Linked DNA regions of Homo sapiens: regions 2, 3, 4 and 5 are each linked to region 1. Evidence: fine-mapped expression QTL. A gene starts in region 1. Each other region holds a variant in brackets. All regions are shown on one strand. Distances are from middle to middle.

Region 1 (4,154 bases):
AACCAATCTCATTTCCAGTCCTGGAGCCTCCTCAAACCCATCTTCCACAATGTAGCTACAGCCATCTGCCTAAAATGCAAATCTGACCATGTCACTCCTTTAATAACTCAAAAAATTTCTCAAATCCTGACCAGCAGACAAGATAAATATGTGGCAAACTGCCATTCTCCTCACCTATCTCTCCCACCCCCATGATACACAATATTAACATTTTTATTAATATTTTGATAGACAAATCATAACTTTATACATTTATGGGGTACAATTTGATGTTTTGGTATATACACACACACACAATGTGGAATGATTAAATCAAATTAACATATCCATCAACCCACTTATCTTTTTTTTGAGGTGAGATATTTGAAATTTACTCTCATAAAATATACAATTTACTCTATTTTGAAATCTACAATATAGTTGAACTTTGGACAACATGGGCTTGAACTGTGCAGATCCACTTATACCCAGATTTTCTTCTGCCTCTGTCACCCCTAAGGCAGCAAGACCAACCCCTCCTTTTCCTTGCCCCTTAGCAATGAAGACAATTAGGATGAAGATGTTTATGATGATACACTGCCACTTAATGAATAGTAAATATATTTTCTCTTCCTTATGATTTTCTTAATAATAATCTTTCCTCCAGCTTACTTTAAGAATTCAGTACATAATACATATGAGATACAAAATATGTTAATCAAGTGTTTCTGTTATCAGGAAGCCTTCCAGTCAATAGTAGGCTATTAGTAGTTAAGTTTTTTTGCAGGGGGGAGGGGAGTAAAAAGTTGTACATGGATTTTCTACTGGGGGTTATGAGTCTGCTGTAATTATTATTAACTATAGTCACCATGCTGTGCCAGAGATCTCAAAAACCATTCCTCCTGTTTAACTGTAACTTTGTGCCCTTGGATCAACATCTTCCCATTTCTGCCCTCCTTCCCCCCACCCTCCAGGCTCTGGTAACCACCATTTTATTCTCTACTTCTATGAGCTGGACTTTTTAAGATGCCACGTATAAGTGAGATCATGCAGCATTTAGACATTACCAATTGACCATGGCTCTCTTGCAGGGCTTAGACTCAGCCTTACAGCTTTCTCAGCCTAGTACCAGGCAGCCACCAAGAGATGAAACAGTTACAACTCCTATTTGGGATAAAGGCTAAGAACCTCAGCAAGGCAGAGAAAGCCTGGACTCCTACAGGGGCCTGTTCTGAGTTCACACACTCCTTACCTTCACTTGGGCTGTTCTACCCGGGATGATGCTTCACCTGGCTAATGAATGGCCTTGCCACCCCTTCCATCTCCACAACCCTTCTCTCACTCCCTCAGTTGAGTACTACCTATTTTCTCGTAACATCTTGCTCCCCGACCACACTGTACTCAAATTCTGTTCACAGGCTCCTTCACTAGACGCAATTTATTTATTGTTTATTTTTATTTTTTTGAGACAGAGTCGCTCTTATCACCCAGGCTGGAGTGCAATGGCACGATCTCGGCTCACTGGAACCTCCATCTCCTGGGTTCAAGCGATTCTCCTGCCTCAGCCTACCGAGTAGCTGGGATTACAGGCGCCTCACCACCACGCCCGGCTAATTTTTGTATTTTTAGTAGAGACGGGGTTTCGCCATGTTGGCCAGGCTGGTCTCAAACTTCTGACTTCGTGATCCGCCCGCCTCGGCCTCCCAAAGTGCTGGGATTACAGGCTGAGCCACCGCGCCTGGTCCACTATACGCAATTTATTAAAGGGCAGAGGCCTTGTCTTCTTTGTACGTCTAGCACCTACTGCACCGTGGAAGTTTCCAATAACGTTTGTTGAAACTGCCACAAATGCAGCAGGGGACTAGCGGTGAAACAGATGAAGAAACTGAAGGGTCCTATGGAGAGAGGGGTAAGCCTAATGTCCTATTTTGCCCGTTTTCCAAAGGTTTGGTCAGCTTACTCCTGCTCTTCCTGTATCCCCACAATCAGAGATGCTGGCTGGCTTTCAACACGTGCCATTAGTGTGCAGCGCTTCCTTTGTCTTTTCTGTTTTGTAACTGTCACTCCGAGACTGTAAGCCATTTGAGGGCAAGGGCTGTGTCTTTGGGTACTTCGCTCCTCGCAGTCACAAGTACTGGCGTGCGTACGCGGGGAGAGATCGCTCCTCAAAACGGGGTCCTGAACGCTGCCCCGCGGCCCCCAAGCCCGGCCCGCCCCGCCCCTGCATCCCGACCCCTCCTCACGCCGGCCCCTTCCCGCCTTCCGGGCGGCGGAAGTCGCTGGCTGCTCTTCCCTGCCCACATGAGCCTTTTCCGGTGCGCCCGCCCCCTCCGGCTCTCCGGCCGAGACCTGGCCCTCACCTCAGGGTTCCCAATGTGCCTCCGGAGGGACATATTTTCTCCAACCGACCACGTTCGGGGTTCTAGCCTCACGGGTTGCCTCTAACCCTAGCTTCCTACCCCCACAACCTTGTTCAGCCGCCTCCCTATACCCTCTTCTCCGATTGGCCCGTCTTCCCCGGCCGGCCAATGGGGGCCCCGTTTACTCTCTCATCTCAGGGTCGCAGAAGGGCAAGACGCCGCTCAATGGTTGCCAAGGGCAACGCGGGACGCCGGCTAGCGAGGCCTTTTGTTCTCTGGGCTGGGGCTCGCCGGCTCCAGCCTTAGGGCGGGAAGAGAGGCGCGGGGGGAGGGGAAGGCTGGCGCCTGCGCAAAGCCGGGGGCGGGGGCAGTGGCTTGAGAGCCGGGACAAAACACGAGTTTTAGCTAATGTGGAACCATAAATACAACACAAGACTCCCCATCCCCCAGCTCCGTTTTATGGCCGTTTCAACCAAACATCTGGGCTACTGATTCCACAACAGGGAATATTATATGGGCCAGGGTTGTTCAGCAGAAATGGGAGAGTATGGTTTATTATTTTCTGGTTAAGTTAATATGCGAATTATGCAAAATACATGGGTAAATACAGTAATTATCGGTGCTTTAAAAGCTTTTAGGCTAGCTATAGAGCGACATCCTTAATTGCAAAGCACACGCGCTATTCTGTGGTTCATCGTTCATTTAACAAATACTTAATAAGCACCTTATGAGAAAAGCTGCAGTAGGTCTTGTGGAGAATGGGAGGATGACTAGGACCCAATCCCGTCGTCATGGAAACCATTGTGACTCCTGCCACCAGCCACCACCTGTTCCCATTCCGGATCTGAAAATGAAGTCCTAGCACCTTTACAAAACAATTACACACACAGTTTGACTTGGCTCCTAAATGTCCCACCAAATCCATCAAAATTATTATTTCCTTTTACATGAAAGGAACAACACAGTAACCCTTTGTCCTTTGCTCTAAGTTGTTTTTCCAGGAATGGAGAAAGGTTACTCTGAGCAGTTCATACTCGCCAGTTGTCTGTTAGTGAATAATAGCACACATTTGAGCTACTTCAGGGTCTGTGAGATGACCCATTCAACAACATGGCCTCACATGCCCTTGTTCTCTTAGGCACTTCAGCAACCCAACCTTAGGGCTACACCTTGGATCATGTTGCCAGTCAGTGCTGCTTGACCAGAATTTTGAATTCTGGCCACAGCTGCTTCTTGGACTTTTCATGTCACTCTTTCATGTTTATTAAGTTTTGTCTTAATTTCCATAATCTTTGCCAGTTCTTTAACCCCTCTAAAATTCTCAGTCTCTCACTCCTCTGCTAAGGAAGGGTTTGAAGGCTGCAAAAAATTGGAAGGAGGCAGAGGGAAGAATGTTAATCTAGAAGCTTTTGCATAGCAAGCAGAAACTTCTAGATTCATTAGTATTTAGAATGTATGCTTACCTGGTGCACCTTGTGGGTAACCATAGAGATTATGGATAGAATAACGGGAAAGGAGAGAGGGAGATGATAGGGGACTACACTCAGAGGTGGTGAGAAAGACAGAAAAGGAGAGATTTAAAGACGTGTAGGTAAAATCAATAGTATACATGAGAAGAGGTAAGGGGTGCAAGGAATAGAAATTCATCAAAGATGGCTATAGTTTCTCTAACTTGAGGAACTGAGTAGATGGGCGATAATGCATTAATCAAGTTAAAGAACAACAGTCAAAAAGCCAAAACAGCAGAAAGTACAAGTAGGTCCAACAGTCCATTCAACTTCCATTCTTCAGTGTTTTGGCTCACTTCTTTGTACG
Region 2 (4,154 bases), 47 kb before region 1:
CAACTTAAAAATGAAAGTATTGATATGAAAATAAGTATTAATAACCTAAAAGACAATTTTGGAAAATATTGCAACTTAAAAATGAAAGTATTGATATGAAAATAAGTATTAATAACCTTGAGGGGTTAAAATAATAAAAAGGGTTAAAGAAAAAGACAAACATTTCAAAAGAAAAATAGGCAATTCCACTAAGAAGAAACACAAATCAATACATGTATGAAAGACACTGATCCTCTAAGTGATTTCTTGTTCATTAAGGAGAAATGAAGATATTTTTCTCTCATCAGATTGGCAAAGAATAAAAAGACTGATGACTCCAGTGTTAACATGTAGTGCTGGTGGAGCAGAAACTGGCACCACCTTCCCAGAGGGCAAATTTGGCAATATAAATCAAAATTATAAATGTATTGTGTCTTTGATCCAGAAAACCCACATGGAAGAATTTACTTTATAAAAATATTTGGATGGATTCAAAAATATGTATGTACAAGATTGGAAAAGTAAAAAACAAAAAACCTAGATAATTACCAGTCTTGATGCTGATCTGACACATCCACACACTGGAACAACACGACACCATTAAGGGCTGTGTTGACATGGAAAAATGTTCACAACATACTAAGTGAAAGAAACTGGCTATAAGATGGAAATGTTATAAAACTGGATTGTGGTGATGGTTGCACAATTCTGTAAACTTAACTCAAAATCATTGAGTTGTGCACTTAAAATGGGTGAATTTTATGGTATGTGATTTATACAATACAGTTGTTTTAAAAAAGAAGCTGGATACAAAATATTGAGTCTGGATCCCATCTTGTTTAAAAGACACACACACACACACACACACACACACACACACACACACACACAAACATGCTTTCTCTCTCTCCTTCTCTTTCTCTTCCTGGAAGGATATATCCCCCAATAATAATAATGATTAACCTGGGTAGTGGTGGTGGTAGTTTTCCTTTTTATGCTTCTCAGCATTTCTCGCAATGAGCTTCTATAATCAGCTTTTATAACGGGCAGGGAGTGAAGGGAGCTATTTCGAACACAGTAGATAACATGTGTGTAAAGTTACCTAACATCGGTGTATTATCAACATCAAACAGCTAAATGGCCATCTTAGTTTTTACTCAGATTCTTTTGATTTGTCTAAACTCATTTTTTTCTGCTCCGGTATAATGTTTCATCATCTTGCCCGGAACGCTGCAGTTTGTCTTATCTTCAGAAAAATTCACACTCCAAGATACAGCTGGAAGCAGCAGTGTTTCTACCAAAGGAAGAGATTACTCAGCTCATGCAGTTGGGGGCCATTCCCCATCCTACCCCTTGTTGTAGCTTGATGAAAATTCCCAAAACCCCTTCCTGCTCACATTCAGTTCTTGTAGCTATCTTGGGAATTGATTATGCTAATGCCTATTCCCCAGGGCCTTTGAAAATCTTTATTTTCAAATGAACTCATTTTACTTTTTACTCAGACCATTACATATGGTTCTCTAATGGCCTGTGGGCCCAATATTGGTGATCTATGAGAATCCTTAGGGTAGCCTCTTGAATTAACACTCAGATATGCACAGCTAGCTTTCTGTCTTTGGCCTAAAGTTAAAATGGGAATGTCATTGAATACAATCCAGATATGACCTCACTGGTCCTTCATCCAGTGCGGGGCGATTCATCACCCTGGCAATTGTTTTGCAAGGGCGAGTGGGATGAGGTGGATTTGAAGATGCACAGGGACTCTTGCTTTAAGGACTACAGCAACATCATTCTGTGAACACACTAAGACCCAGATGCTACTCAGATGAAGCTGATATGACTAACCGTAACATTCAAATTGGCCAAATCAAGGAGAAGCTCTCAGAAAAGCACAGAGCATGCATCGTCAAATCTAAAAAACTGTCAAAGGGTAATGAATTATTCCCCAAAGCTTTCAGGATCTGCATTAATTTGGCAACTCAAACACTGAGCATCATCCAACAACCTCAGAGACTGGGATTGCCAAATGTTTATTGCCAAACTAAAAGGAGAAAATGGAAAGTCTTCTGCTTAACCACAGTAGTGGTATTGGCTACATTTTTAGAAGAGTGCAGTAGAATAAGGGCTCTGCTGACAAGGACTGGGGCAAGGAGGTTTGCCTCTGCTTCCCCCGGGAACTCAGGCCTATGGCCATCGCCAATTCATGCAACTTATGTTTCAGCCGAAATCAGAAACATCACCACAAAGGAAAGAAAAGATCAGGCACAAATCATATCAATATGGTTTA[C/T]TGAATGAATGGCTAGACCTATCAGGAAAACAGCCTACTTTTTTCCCCCTACAATATAATTAAAAGTTTGTAATTCTCATTCCTTAAGTGGTACTTTGCAAGGTGTCCATTAACAGACAAAATAACCTCGGAAGCCCTGGAGCACCTGTCTTCAAGATAAGACAGCAGACACAGGCGGTGGAAATGTGGAAATACGCATTCCCCAGAGCAGATGTTTCAGTTCCTGAATTTCCATCGCCTTTTGTGCAGGCAAGCGGAGGAAAGTTTTCAAAAGAATCTCGGCTGACTAGGAGGGAAGGGAAGCCAATAGCGAAGGGAAAGGTACATTTTCACGGTAAGTTAGAGGCATCACCAAAGGAGAACATGGTTGTGCCCACCCAGAGTGAGAAGCATAGAGCGGAGTGGCTGAAAGAACACCCTCTGGAGCCACAGTTCTCAGGCTGGCTCCTGGCTTTTCAAACCCTTGGTCAGAGACTGAAGGCAAACCTGAGTCACTTAATTTCTACCCGAACCTCAGTCTCCTCATCTGAAAATGGGGGTGCCTGCCTCATCAGACTGTTGTGGAAATTAAATGGGTCAAAACATATAATGAAGAATCTAGGAGCAAAGTAAGCTCTCCACAAACATTGGCTAGTATTATTATTTTCTGGAAATCTTCAAGATTTGAAACAAAAGAGAAAACCTACTCTTAAGATGGGGGTGGTGTGTGACCTTTGCGTGCTGAATTTGGGAGGATACTTTAAGCCTGGCAGAGACAGGGTAATAACACCCCCAGCAGCTCTCTGGGTACTTCCTGTAGAGGGAGATCTAAAAACCTCAGGGTTTTGAATGCCTCGCCCACAAAGGCAGGATACACAAGGGGGACAGAAGATAACGAGCTTTCTGGGTCTCCAGAATGACAGACTAGCACTGAGTGGCCACCACAGTGGGCATCACATCCAAACTTCAATCTTGACAGGTTCAATTCATTTATTCATGAACACTTATTAAGGGCCACTGTCACAGGGTTGGTGATTTTCACTCTCTGGGAGCTTATAGTCAAAATAATTGCAACAGGAAGACATATTGATATCCTTTAAAAGATGCAGCCCATCCGTCCACAGCATTTGAGAAGTGGCCTCTCTTTGCCTCACATTTTACCAGGTGCTTCAGGATGTTACACAGGTGAGAATTTGCTTCTGTACAGAACAAAGAGGATCAGCAACAGAGAGGGGAGCCATCAGGGGATCACAATGTGACAGACACCGTTTCGAAAACACATAAAATCATGCACCGAATCCTGTTCTGCCTGAATTCAAGGCTGACAAATTTCCACCATTACATTTTTTATGTTGTAACTGACCTGTGTATCCATTTAAAGATGTCATAATAATAATTTCAATAATTATTGTAAATCTAGGAAAGTATTACTACCCAAATGTATTCTGAACATTTTGGAAGCACAATGTTATTTATTGCTTTTGCATGAAAAAATAATTGTTAGTGAAAAATTAATGGACCTGCATGTAAGTACTCAACATGCTCACATAATTAAACTGGTGAATTATATTCCACACATTTGCGGTGTTTCCTGGGGAAAAAAAAGTATCGTGGGAGTTAAATCTTTGAAAGAATTGGGAAGAAAATAAACACACATTAAAGACACTGAGAACGTTTTAGAACTGGAGAAAGAAAGGTTCTTACTGATTATCTTCAGAGTAGAGCAAGAAGGTGGTCATGGATTTAAATCCAGGTGGACAGAAACTAATTATTCGCTCTAAAAAAGTCAGATAACATAAAAGACAGAATCTATAGCCAATAAACAACATGACAGAAACCAAAACCAACACAAGAAAAATTACCTACGTATTTCTTCCTAGCCTAGGACTCTGATTTCACTTACATTCCA
Region 3 (4,154 bases), 31 kb after region 1:
ATCCTGCAACCTTGCTAAACTCATTGATTACTTCCAAGATATTTGTTAGTGTAGATTCTTTGGGATTTTCTACATAAGCCATCATATTGCATGTGATCAAAGAAAGTTACATTTATTTATTCTAATCTACATACCTTTTATTTATTTTTCTTACCTGATTGCACTACTAGGACCTCAAGTATAATGTTTACTTGGAATCGTAAAGAGGACATTGTTGCCTTTCTCTGGACCTTAGAGGAAAAGGATTCAATCTCTCACCATTAATTATGATGTTAGTAATAGGGTTTTTTTTTGTAGATACCATTTATTAGGTTAAAGAAGTTCTCTTCTATTTCTAGTTTGCCAAAAATTTTGACCATGAATTGATGTTAAATTTTATCAGAAGCTTTTTTCTGTATCTACTGAATTGGTCATATAATTTTTCTCACTTTAGTCTATTAATGTGGTTAATTACATTGATTGATTTTTGGATGTTGATGTAGACTTATATTCCTAATATGAACCCCACTTGGTCATATGTATTGTCTGTTTTATGTATTGATGAATTAAATGTGCTAATATTTGGTGAAGGATTTTTTTGTCTATGAGTTATATTAGTCTGTAGTTTTCTGTTGTCTGATTTTCGTATTTAGGGTAGTGCTGACCTCATAAAATAAGTCAGGAAGTGGTCTGTCCTTTTCTATTTTGTGGAAGAGAATGTGTAGAGAATGTGTTGTTTTTTCCTTAAATATTCAGTAGAATTCACAGTAAAAACATCTTGCCATGAGTTTTTTGAGAAAGTTTTTAACTACAAATTTAATTTATTTAATAAATATAGCATTATCAGAACTATTCTTATCTATTCCTTCTGTAGTTTGTATCTTTTAAGGAATTGGTTCATTTTATCAAAGCTTTTGAATTTGGGGGCATAGAGTTGTTTGTAACATTGCCTTAGTATCCTTTTTAATATTTGTCAGATCTCTCTCCTTTTATTTCTAATACTGGCAATTTGTATCTTCTCCCTTCCTTCTCGTTTAGTCATGCTAATCTTTGGTTTTCAACAGAGAGGGCAGCATTTAGGGAGACACAAACTTGCCTAGAAAATTATATAGGGACACAGTTGACTCAAGCATTGGTCTAAGAACATCAGCAGGTTTTTGATTGTCAAGGAAAAATTGGATTTTGTAGTATCAGGAAGCCCAGCCTGTTGATCCTGCTGGGGACTCATATATCCAGATGGAAGGTGAATTTATGTTCAAGCATAATTCCTTAGCAACCTGAGATACTTTAGTTGCACTAATATTTGTGTCTTTTTAGACATTAGATTGGAATGATCTCATGATAAGATATTAACTAATGGTCCAAGGTCCTGGAACTATTTTTTTTTTTTTTTAGGGTATTGCTGTTGCCCAGGCTGGAGTACAATGGCATGATCATAGATCACTGCAGCCTTGAACTGCTGGGCCCAAGTGATCTTCCCACCTCAGCCTCCCAAGTAGCTGGGATTACAGGAGTAAGCCACTGCAGGCATTTCAAGAGCTCATTCTTTTCAGATGGCTAAAAGCTGGTTCTTTGGGAATATCAATAAAGTTGATAATATGTAGTATACTAATCAGGAAGAAAAGAGAGAAGGCGCAAACTACTAATATCAGGAATAAATATTATAGGAGATATAATGGGGATATCACCAGAGTACCTATAGGCATTAAAAAGATAATACTATTTATGAAAAAAATACATGCCAATAAATTTTGACAATGTTACAAACCACCATCTCACTCAAGAAGAAATAGCTTACCTGAATTGTCCTATATGTATTAAAGTAATTGGATTTATAGACTAAAAACCCTCTTCCCCCATAACATTAACTAGCCAACAAAACAAACCCCTCCAGGGCAAGATAACTTTACTGATAAATTCCACCAAAATTTAAGGGAGTAATAATACCAATGCTATAAATAATACCAATACATTTTTCTGAAAAATGGAAGAGGAAGAAACATTTCCCAACTTATCTTGTTAGGTCAGCATTACCTTGATACTAGTATTGGACAAAGGCATTATAAGAAAGAAAACTATATTCCAATATATTTCATGAACATAGACACAATCTTAACAAAAGTTTAACAAATCAAACCCAAATCATAATACATCATCATACCTAGTTGTCTAGCAATAGATGAATGGATAAACAAAACATAGTTTCACAGCTTGCCAGGAGTTAAAAAAGAAAAGGAAGAAAAGAAAACATGGTAATATATACACAGT[G/A]GAATATTATTCAGCCATAAAGAGAATGAAATCCTGTCACTCGTGGCAACACGGATGCAACTGGAGGACGTTATGTTAAGTGAAATAAGCCAGACACAGAAAGTTAAACACCACACGTTCTCACTCGTATGTGGAAGCTAAAAAACAGTTGATCTCATAGAAGTGAAAAGTAGGACAGGGGATATTAGAGGCTGGGAAGGGCAGGTGGAAGGAGGGAATAGGAAGAAATTTGTTAAAGAATACAAAATTATAGCTAGATAGAAAGAGTAAATTCCAGTGTTGTATTCCACTGTAGGTGACCATAGTTAACAATAATATGTAGTTTTTATCCCTCCCTTCCTCCCTCCCTCCCTCCCTCCCTCCCTTCCTTCCTTCCTTCCTTCCTTCCTTCCTTCCTTCCTTCCTTCCTTCCTTCCTTCCCTTTTTCTTAGAGATAGGGTCTCACTTTGTCACCCAGGCTGGAATGCATGCTGTGATCATAGCTCACTGCAGCCTCAAACTCCTGGGCTCAAACAATCCTCCCACCTCAGCTTTCCAAACAGTTAGGACTACAGGTACATGCCATCATACCTGGCTAATTAAAATTTTTTTTTTTTTTTTTTTTGTAAAAAGAGGGGTCTCACTATGTTGCTCAGGCTAGTCTCAAACTCCTGGTCTCAAGCCATTCTCTTGCATCGGCCTCCCAAAGCACTAGGATTACAGGCATGGGCCACTGCGCCTGGCCTATTATGTAGTATTAAATGCTAAGAGGAGGATATTGAATGTTCCCAACATTAAGAAATGATAAATGTTTGAGATGATGCATATGCTAATTACCCTGATTGGCTCACTATACATTATATGCATTGAAACATCACTACATACCCCATGAATATGTAAAGTTATTAAATGTCAATTAAAACTAAAAATAAATAAAAAGTATATCATCAGTATTTACCTAAGAGAAATATGTCCACACAAAGCTTTGTACACAAATGTTCATAATAGCTTTATTTATAGCAATCCAAAATGGAAGCAACCCAAATGTCTTCCTGTAAGTCACTAGGTAAATGAATAAATAAGTAGTTGATGGCTACATAGTTGATTCCATATAAGGAATACTACTCAGCAGTAACAAATAATACACTATCTATACACCCAGCAACATGATGGATCTCAAAATCATGTTGAGTCAAAGAGGCCAATCAAAACAGAATACATACTGCATGGTTCCATTTATATAAAATTCTAGAAAAGGAAAACTAACCTATAGTGATAGAAATTAGATCAGTGATTACCTGGGGATGGGGGAAGCAAATAACAGATTGTGAAAAAGGAAGACAGATGGATTACAGAGGACCATGAAGAAATTTGCGGAGTGGGTAATGGCTTTGTTTATTATCTTGATTATTGTGATGATTTCAGGGGTATACACATATGTCAAAATTCATGAAATTACACACTTTAAATATATGTGGTTTATTGTACAACAGTTATAGCTCAATAAAGCTGTTAAAAACTCACCAGAAATGAAAAATGTAGAGAGGGCTGAGGACAGCTTTAAGTGGATGTTGGTCTCTGGCAGTCATTTATCTCTGCCTCCCCTACTTGCCTTGTTCTCATTTTTGGATTTCCTGTGCCTCTATTCTTCCTCATTTTGGCTGTGCATGTTCACTTTTATTTCCTATTGCTGTGTCAACAGTTTGTGGGGTTAGAACTTGGAAAGGGTACTGGGTCTCTTTACTCTTTTCTTAAGCCCCTATTTTGTCCCTAGTTTGCCTTTGGTCATTTCCAAAGCTAAGAACATTTCCAGAGCAACAATTTTGGTTCCCTCTCTGTATCTTGTATATAGTCCCTGATCTAATAGGCTGAGGTCCTTCCACTGTCTCTGTATAACAGTTTTAACAATTTAATGGTGACAAGAATTG
Region 4 (4,000 bases), 130 kb before region 1:
CACGGAGAGTTTTTGATCTCAGATTGACTGTAGGAGTAACGCTGTCTGTAGATGTTTTTGGGTAGTAGTCTGTGAGATGGGCAGGATTCTGTCAGTTAAATATCTTTGAAAAAGGTTGATTAGGCAGGGTAAGAACATTAGTCCTAGGCATATTATTAGGACAGAGCCCAGGAATGGGATGACCTGTGTTACGATTTTGTTTCCAAACCAAGAAGTTATTTGGTTGTTTTGCTATTCCTTTAGCTTTTTAGCCCTTTTTAAAAGTTTTTCAGCAGTGTTTCTTACTAGGCCTGATTCTTACCCAATGAGAGGCAGAGGCCCCCTTTTTCAGCTGTTATAAGATTTAATCCCCATTTATTTTGGAGGACTGCAGCTGAGGAGTCTAGTTGGTCTTGGGCTTTTATAAGGCTTCGGGCTATATTTTTTAAAGAACCCTGTAGTTCTGTTGAAAGAGTTTTTTTAAAGTATGTTAAAGACGTGGCCAATCTGCCTGCTCCCAATCCAAGTATAGAGGTTACACCTAAGGCCTCCATCAAAGGAATGACGTGGATGGCCCTCTTTTTTAAAACAGATTGGACAGATGGAATGGGTAAAGGTTGATTAGGAGGAACTAGTTTAATGGAGGGAGAAAGATAAACTAGGACACAGGTTCCAGTTTAGTTGGTGCGGAGACAAAGATATGTGTTGGTGCCACACCAAAAGAACAAGACTTCGTTGTAAATACAGGTGGAGATATGGAAAGAAAACAAGTGAATTAAAGACGGGGTGTTTTTTCTTTCTTGTGGTTCATTACTCCAGGTGGACAAGGAGGAGGCCAGGGAGACACCCACTATGGTAGAGATATAGAAAGAATTATTTTTTACACAATACTGCAGTCAGATGTTGCACTATTGATATCCAACCATGGAAAAATGTGGGCACCAGGGACAACACAGGTTGGGCCAGAGGCATTGGTTGAGGGAGAGGCTGTGAAAAGAGCCAGTTGCAAAAATGCTCTGTTTGCTTCTGGTGATCCTTGGTAGTCAACTTTGTTAGTTTGGTGGTCAGAGGGGTGTTTAATAATAATGAGAGCGGTTGCACTGGTTAGGTGTTAAGGACCCTACAGGGAAATTTTCCTTAGAGGCTGAAAAGTAAAGTGAGGTTTGTTGTAAAACGGGGGTGTGTTTAGTTATGGGCCCTTTAATGGGAGGGCCTTGGGGCTTGAGGTGTTGTAGGGAGTCGTAATAGGTTTGAAATAATTTGTTGGCCTGATTGGCCCTGGAAGCAGGATAATCGCTGACCAGGGTGTCAGCTCTTTTAACAAAGGAAGCTCCTTTCTGGAATTTATAAATTAGGGTTATGTTTCCTGTTAAAAGGTCATGAAGGGTTGTAGGAAGAGCTGCGTAAGCTGAGGAAGACAGCGATAAGCACATTCAGCATTCCGGAGCAAAGGAACAGTTAGCTTGCAGCAAGAGGGATCGTGTAAGGTTTACAGAGAGTTCTAGTTTGAGAGCAGTTAGGAGTGGTTGTATTGGTGAGGTTGATGTGATTAGGGAATTTATACTGAAAGAAACAAGAAAAAGAGAAAACAGTTATTTGGGTAGGAGTAAAGTCCTGGAAAGTTCCTCGAAGCCGTAGGTCCCATAGCACAGTAAGGAGCTGTTCAGGATGTATAATGGGAATTCTGTAAGAGTACCACTGAAGGGCTGTAATGCGGTTGGTTAGGAAGCGACGAAAGTTTGGGAGAGAAAGAGATGTAAGCGGCTTATGTGGATTTCTCTTCCTTTTTCTTCGGGATTCGGGTGAGGTGAAGGGAAGTGGGTCCTATGGAGACACAAGAGAAGGCTGAGGGATTTTAGACTTGGTTGTTTGGGTATGTGGTGAAGGGAAGTCTGTTTTCTTGAGAGAAGTATAATGAAACCAGCTGGGGAGTCCTTGGAGTTTTGCTGCCGTGGGTGTAGTAAGGATGATCTGGTAAGGTCCCTTCCACTTAGGTGTGAGGGGGGGAATTGGGGGTAGGACTGGGATCCCAGTCCTGGTGTAGGAAGGGATTAGAGGAGTCAGTTACGGGTTGTGGCAGGCATTTGTTAGCATATTCCCAAATAAAATGGCAGATGGTATGTAGAAGAGGGGAAACGAGAGGGGTTGGTGGAGGCAGGGCTTGACTCTGAGGTGGAACAAAAGGTGTGAGTGGTCTTTTGGACGTGAGTTTAAAGGGGCTGAGCATTGGAGGTTTAGGTGGGAGTGCCTGAATTTTTAGAAGGGCCAAAGGTAAAAGTGTAACCCAGTTTGTATGTGTTTGGAGTGAGTACTTGGTGAGGGT[G/GT]TTTTTTAGAATGTTATTCATTTTTTTAACCTTTCCTGAAGATTGAGGGTGATAGGGGATGTGTGGCTTCCAGGTGATTAGTAGGGCCTGTGCAAGTGTTTGAGTAATTTGATAAATGAATTCAGGGCCATTATCAGATTGAAAAGAAAGAGGCACCCCGAACCTGGGGATGATTTATGTTATTAATTTGGAGGCGACAATAGAAATTCGATTGTTGGATGGAAAAAGCCTCCACCCATCCTGACAAGGTATTAGCCAGAACTAAAAGAAATTGAACCTTGTTTACTGGGGCATATGGGTAAAATTAATTTGCCAGTCTTGTCCTGAAAGGTGTCCCCTGGCTCGAAAGGTTGGGAAAGAAGGGGGTTTAGTGTTGGAATAAGGTGACGCTTTGTGGCAAATAGAGCATTGATGGGAAATGGCTTTTAACTGTTCCTTTATATCTGGGGTTATGTGTATATGAGAACTTATGAAATGTTGTAGAGGTAAATGGCTACTGTGGAAGAGATTGTGAATATCTCATAAAAGCGTTGTTTTTTCAGGGTTAGGTGGGACTAATTTGGTTCGTATCAACCAGTATGGGGGTTTGAATTGTGCCCCCGCCATAACTAGTTGCTATATTTGGTGTTTAGGATAAAAGGAGGGGATATGTTGTATGAGGGGAAATAGGTATTGGGGAATTGGATGATTGGTTGAGACGTGTTTTGCTCAATAGTCAGCCTCACAGTTCCCTAAAGAAATGTGATTGATGTCCTTTGCAATGGATAACTGCAACCTTTTCTGGAAGTAAAGCTGCCTTTAGATGATGGATTAGTTTTCCATTAATGATAGGAGTTCCCTCAGCTGTGAGATAGCCCTGCTTGCTCCAAATTTGGGCATTGGAATGGATGATGTTATAGGCATATTTAGAATCGCTGTATAAATTGTGTGTTTTTTGCTAGGGTTAGGGCTCTTAGGGCAACTAATTCTGTTTGTTGGGAGGATGTGCCCAAAGGCAAGGGGGCAGCCTCTACAACTCTTTTAGGTGGGAGAGAGTGGGTATCATTATGATATCCCTTAAAGATGGCATATCCTGCTTGGAGGGAGGGTTTTTTGATGTGCTGCCATTTATAAACTAATTTGGGGCTCCCTTTATGTGAGTGGAAGTAAGGTGGTGAAACATGGTGAGAGAACTTGTAATTAGATCAGAGCATGAGTGTTGGTTGGGGTTTAAAATTGGTGTTGAGGCTGGGCGCGTTGGCTCACGCCTGTAATCCTCCCACTTTGGGAGGCCGAGGCGGGTGGATCACCTGAGGTCAGGAGTTTGAGACCAGCTTGGCCAACATGGTGAAACCCCGTCTCTACTAAAATACTTTAGCTGGGCATTGTGGTGTGCGCCTGTAATCCCAGCTACTTGGAAGGCTGAGTCAGGAGAATCACTTGAACCTGGGAGGCAGAGGTTGCACTCCAGCCTGGGCTACAAGAGCGAAACTCTGTCTCAAAAAAAAAAAAAAAAAAATTGAAGATAAAAGACTGGTGGGATTTGGGGGGTAGCATATATGAAGAGAGATAGAAGGTTGAAAGAGTATTGAATATAGGGCTTGCATGCGAGAGGATGGAAAGGATGAGATGGAGGTGAGCGCCTTATGGCTGAGCATATCTTGTAGACTGTGAGAAGAAAATACCTGAAGGGATCTTTATCTGGGCTCAAGCAATCCT
Region 5 (4,154 bases), 320 kb after region 1:
GATGTCTTCTTGGTATTTATATTAGTTTCCTAGGGATGCCTAAAAAAATCACCACAAATGTAGTGGCTTAAAACAACAGAATTTACTCTCTCACAGTTCTGATGGCCAGAAGTCCAAAATGAAGGTCTTGCAGAGTTGACATCTTCTGGAGACTCTGAGGGGGAATCCCTTCCACGGTCCCCTTCCGGCCTCTGATGGCTGTCAGCGATCCTTGGTACTCTTTGACTTACAGCTCTGCCTTCATCTTTACATCTTCTTCTCCTCTGTCTGTGTCTTCTCTTCTCGGGACACTTGTCATTGGATTTAGAGCCTACCTGGATAATTCACAATGATCTCATCTTGAGAGTCTTAATTATGTCTACAAAGACTCTTTTTCTAAATAAGGTCACGTACACAGATTCCTGGTAGACATATTTTTGTGTGTGTGTGTATGGGCCACAACACAAACTACTACAGCATCTATTAAGAAAGGTATCTTTTTTACTAGACAGGCAGTTTAACCAACTAAGACGCAGTGCCGCCCAAGAAAGATATCTTTTGGCTGGACGTGGGGGCTCAGAACTGTAATCCCAGCACTTTGGGAGGCTGAGGTGGGAGGATCACTTGAAGCCAGGAGTTCAAGACCAGCCTGGCCAACATAGTGAAACCCCATCTTTACTAAAAATACAAAAAAATTAGCCGGTTGTGGTGGCACACGCCTGTATTCTCAGCTGCTCGGAGACTGAGGCAGGAGAATCACTTGAACCTGGGAGGCAGAGGTTTCAGTGAGCCGAGATGGCACCACTGCACTCCAGCCTGGGCGACAGAGTGAGACACTGTATCAAACAAAACAAAACAAACAAAAAACCTGAAAGGTATCTTTTAACTTGTTCTATAGATAAGTCTCTCCTCCCCCCTTCTCTCCTCTCATTTCTCTTTCTTCCAGAAAAAAAAAAATCCCTTTCTCTAACCCCATTCTTTCTAACACTGTTTTTCAGATCTCAGCTTAAAGGTTACTACGTGAAAAGCTGTTTTTGATTCAGTAGACTTGGCTAAATACTCCTCCTGTGTATAGTATGTGCTCTTTGTCGCCCCTGAACTTCTATTATCATATTACATCATATCTTCTTTGGCCATTTTTGTGACCCTGTAACTTGGAATCATGGATATATCGCTCCCTATTTTATTCCCAGAGATTGATGCATCAACCAACATATAAAAAGATTTATACATATTTTGGTATAAAAACTTAATATGATGCATTAAACTAATAGATTGTCTTCTGTTGAACTGTTCTGTTCTTGTAACAAATGGCAGTTAGTCATACTGTGTTATTCTTTTACTATAGTGTTTGAATTTGCATATTAGACATTTTATTAGATTTTTTGCATCTATATTCAAAAGCAAGTATGGTCTTTTGCTATTCATTACTTTGGTTTAGGGAGCAGAGATAAGCTAGATAAATAAGTTGTCTGTCTTCTGGAAGTGTTAAGTAGCATGGGAGGTATGTGATACTTGAGTGCCTAAAAGAGCTTCATCATATAGCCATCTAGGCCCACTAACCTATTTCAAGTCTGGCTAAACATCTCCCAACTTTTCATCATTATTGGTTTTTGTACTTCTGTCTTTTGAGTTTTTCTACTTCTTTCTTGAAGAAAGGTAGCTCGTTCATCATATTTCGATTTTCAAAAATTTGATATGAGTTGTATATTGAAATCTCTTACAATTTAAAAATCTATTTCATAGTTCCAATGATGTCTTCTTTCTCATTACTAATGG[T/C]GTCTTTGTTGTTTCATCTTTTTCAAGTTTAATTTTCTGCAGATTTTTTTCATTAGATTTTTAAAAATTAGGTAATTAATTTAAAAAACTTATTGAGGTATATGTGACATACCATAACATTTATCCATTTCAAGTTAACAATACAATAATTTTCAATAACGCTACCCTGTGGTTCAGCCATCAGCATAAATCAGTTTTAGAATGTTTTCATGAGCCCATAGAAAGATCCCTCATGTCCATTAAAAGTTAATTCCCATTCCCGTCCCCAGCTCTAGGCAACCAATAATCTACTTGCTCTCTCTATAAGTTTGCCTTTTCTGGACATTTCATATAAGTGAAGTTATAAAATATGTGATCTATTGCATCTGGATTATTTCGCTGAGCATAATATTTTTGTGAGTCATCCATGACAAGCATGTGTCAAGAGTTTGTTCCTTTTCATTCCTGCGTAGAATTTCATCATATGAATATACTGCATTTTGTCTATTCATTCACCAGTTGAACCAATCAGTTAGGTTGTTTCTAGTTTTTTGTATTATAAACAGTGCTTCTGTGAACATTTGTGTGCATGTGTTTGTTTGGACACATGTTTTTATTTATCTTGGGTAGGACCTAGGAGTAGAATTGCTGGGTTATGTATTAGTTTTATGACTTACTTTTAAAGAAACTGTCAAACTATTTTCCAAAGAAAAGAAAAAGACTTTTCCACATTCCAAAGAAAAAACTTTATCTCCATACTTTTATTCAAGAATGGATTAATTATTTCCAGGTCTATTTTTATGTTTTTGAGGACCCTCCATACTGTTTCCATAATGGCATACTAATTTCCATCCTCACCAACAGTGTGCAATGCTTGCCTTTTTTCCACATCCTTGCCCATTCTTATTATGTTCTGTCTTTGATAATAACCATTCTAACAAGTGCCAAGTGATATTTCACTGTGGTTTTTATTTACATTTTCCTGATGATTAGTAATGTTGAGTTTTTTTTTTTTAATATATATACCTATTAGCCCTTTGTGTGCCTTCTTTTGAGAAATGTCTTTTCAGGTCCTTTGCCCATTTTCTAATTGGGTTGTTTTCTGGCTGTTGAGTTATGGGAATTTTCTTATATATTTTGGATGTTCATCCCTTATCAGATGGTTTACTAACATTTTTTCTTTTTCCATACATTGTCTCTTTACCCTGCTAATTGTTTCCTTTGCTGTGCAGAAGCTTTTGAAGTTGATGTACTGTCGTCTATTTTTGCTTTTGTTGCCTGTGCTTTTGGGGTCATATTTTAAAATTCATTTCCCAGACCAATGTCAAGAAGCTCTTCCTTTATGTTTTCTTCTAGTAGTTTTATAGTTTCAGGTCTTATATTTAAGTCTTAATCCATTTTGGGTTTTTTATATATAGTATGAAATTAGGGTCTAATTATATTTTTCTACATATGGATATCCAGTTTTCCCAACACTATTTATTGCAAATACTGTCTTTTCCCCATTGTATGTTATTGGCATCTTTGTTGAAAGTCAATTGAATGTAAATACATGGACTTACTTCTGCATTCTCTATTCTGTTTCACTGGTCTATGTGTGTGTATTTATGCCAGTACGGTGCTATATATATATATATATGCACACACACACATATATATATATATACACACACACAAACACATTTATATATACTTTAAATTCTGGGTTACATGTGCAGAACATGCAGTTTTGTTACGTAGGTATACACATGCCCTGGTGGTTTGCTGCACCCATCAACCCGTCACCTACATTAGGTATTTCACCTAATGTTATCCCTTCCCTAGTCCCCCACCCCTGACAGGCCCCAGTGTGTGATGTTCCCCTCCCTGTGTCCATGTGTTCCCATTGTTCAACTCCCACTTATGAGTGAGAACGTGCGGTGTTTGGTTTTCTAATCTTGTGATAGTTTGCTGAGAATGATGGTTCCCAGCTTCATCCGTGTTCCTGCAAAGGACATGAACTCATCCTTTTTTATGGCTGCATAGTATTCCATGGTGTATATGTGCCACATTTTCTTAATCCAGTCTATCATTGATGGACATTTGGGTTGGTTCCAAGTCTTTGCTATTGTGAATAGTGCTGCAGTAAACATGTGTGCCTGTGTCTTTATCGTAGAATGATTTATAATCCTTTGGGTATATGCCCAGTAATGGGATTGCTGGGTCAAATGGTATTTCTAGTTCTAGATCCTTGAGGACTCGCCACACTGTTTTCCACAATGGTTGAACTAATTTACACTCCCACCGACAGTGTAAAAGCGTTCCTATTTCTCCACATCCTCTCCAGCACCTGTTGTTTCCTGACTTTTTAATGATTGCCATTCTAACTGGTGTGAAATGGTTTCTCACTGTGGTTTTGATTTGCATTTCTCTAATGG

Alleles and levels. Alleles are on the strand shown, and positions count from the first base shown. SD is a standard deviation of normalised expression in the study named. Not every link is listed here.
For the expression in subcutaneous fat of the gene that starts at base 2,422 in region 1, G is the high allele of the variant in region 3 and A is the other (small effect, 0.16 SD a copy in GTEx).
For the expression in esophagus mucosa of the gene that starts at base 2,422 in region 1, allele T in region 5 goes with a lower level than allele C (large effect, 0.78 SD a copy in GTEx).

What was found. PIP is the estimated chance that this variant, and not a neighbour inherited with it, causes the effect.
Region 2: its variant is fine-mapped to the expression of CEP41 in whole blood (TOPMed, PIP above 0.99). The same link has a PIP of 0.9 or more in caudate, cerebellar hemisphere, cerebellum, esophagus mucosa, esophagus muscle and gastroesophageal junction.
Region 3: its variant is fine-mapped to the expression of CEP41 in subcutaneous fat (GTEx, PIP 0.92).
Region 4: its variant is fine-mapped to the expression of CEP41 in NK cells (Schmiedel 2018, PIP 0.94).
Region 5: its variant is fine-mapped to the expression of CEP41 in esophagus mucosa (GTEx, PIP above 0.99).

What each region holds. Positions count from the first base shown.
Region 1 is chr7:130,438,595-130,442,748 of GRCh38, forward strand. It overlaps CEP41 (centrosomal protein 41), which reads right to left and starts at 2,422. Exons shown (of 11, transcript NM_018718.3): 1 at 2,340-2,422. The coding sequence starts at 2,372. LOC105375505 (a long non-coding RNA gene) reads left to right here and starts at 3,160. Exons shown (of 3, transcript XR_927973.3): 1 at 3,160-4,094. RefSeq lists an enhancer at 2,108-2,862.
Region 2 is chr7:130,391,523-130,395,676 of GRCh38, forward strand. CEP41 (centrosomal protein 41) reads right to left here. Exons shown (of 11, transcript NM_018718.3): 11 at 2,249-4,154. Among named protein-coding and RNA genes, the nearest start is that of CPA1, 13 kb to the left of the region's middle. RefSeq lists an enhancer at 3,160-3,219. The variant C/T (reference allele first, on the strand shown) is at 2,267.
Region 3 is chr7:130,469,644-130,473,797 of GRCh38, forward strand. No RefSeq gene overlaps it. Among named protein-coding and RNA genes, the nearest start is that of MESTIT1, 19 kb to the right of the region's middle. The variant G/A (reference allele first, on the strand shown) is at 2,248.
Region 4 is chr7:130,313,129-130,317,128 of GRCh38, forward strand. The region is part of intron 10 of CPA4 (carboxypeptidase A4); the gene reads left to right. Among named protein-coding and RNA genes, the nearest start is that of CPA4, 22 kb to the left of the region's middle. The variant G/GT (reference allele first, on the strand shown) is at 2,303.
Region 5 is chr7:130,761,048-130,765,201 of GRCh38, forward strand. All of the region lies in intron 3 of LOC105375508 (a long non-coding RNA gene), which reads left to right. Among named protein-coding and RNA genes, the nearest start is that of KLF14, 29 kb to the left of the region's middle. The variant T/C (reference allele first, on the strand shown) is at 1,759.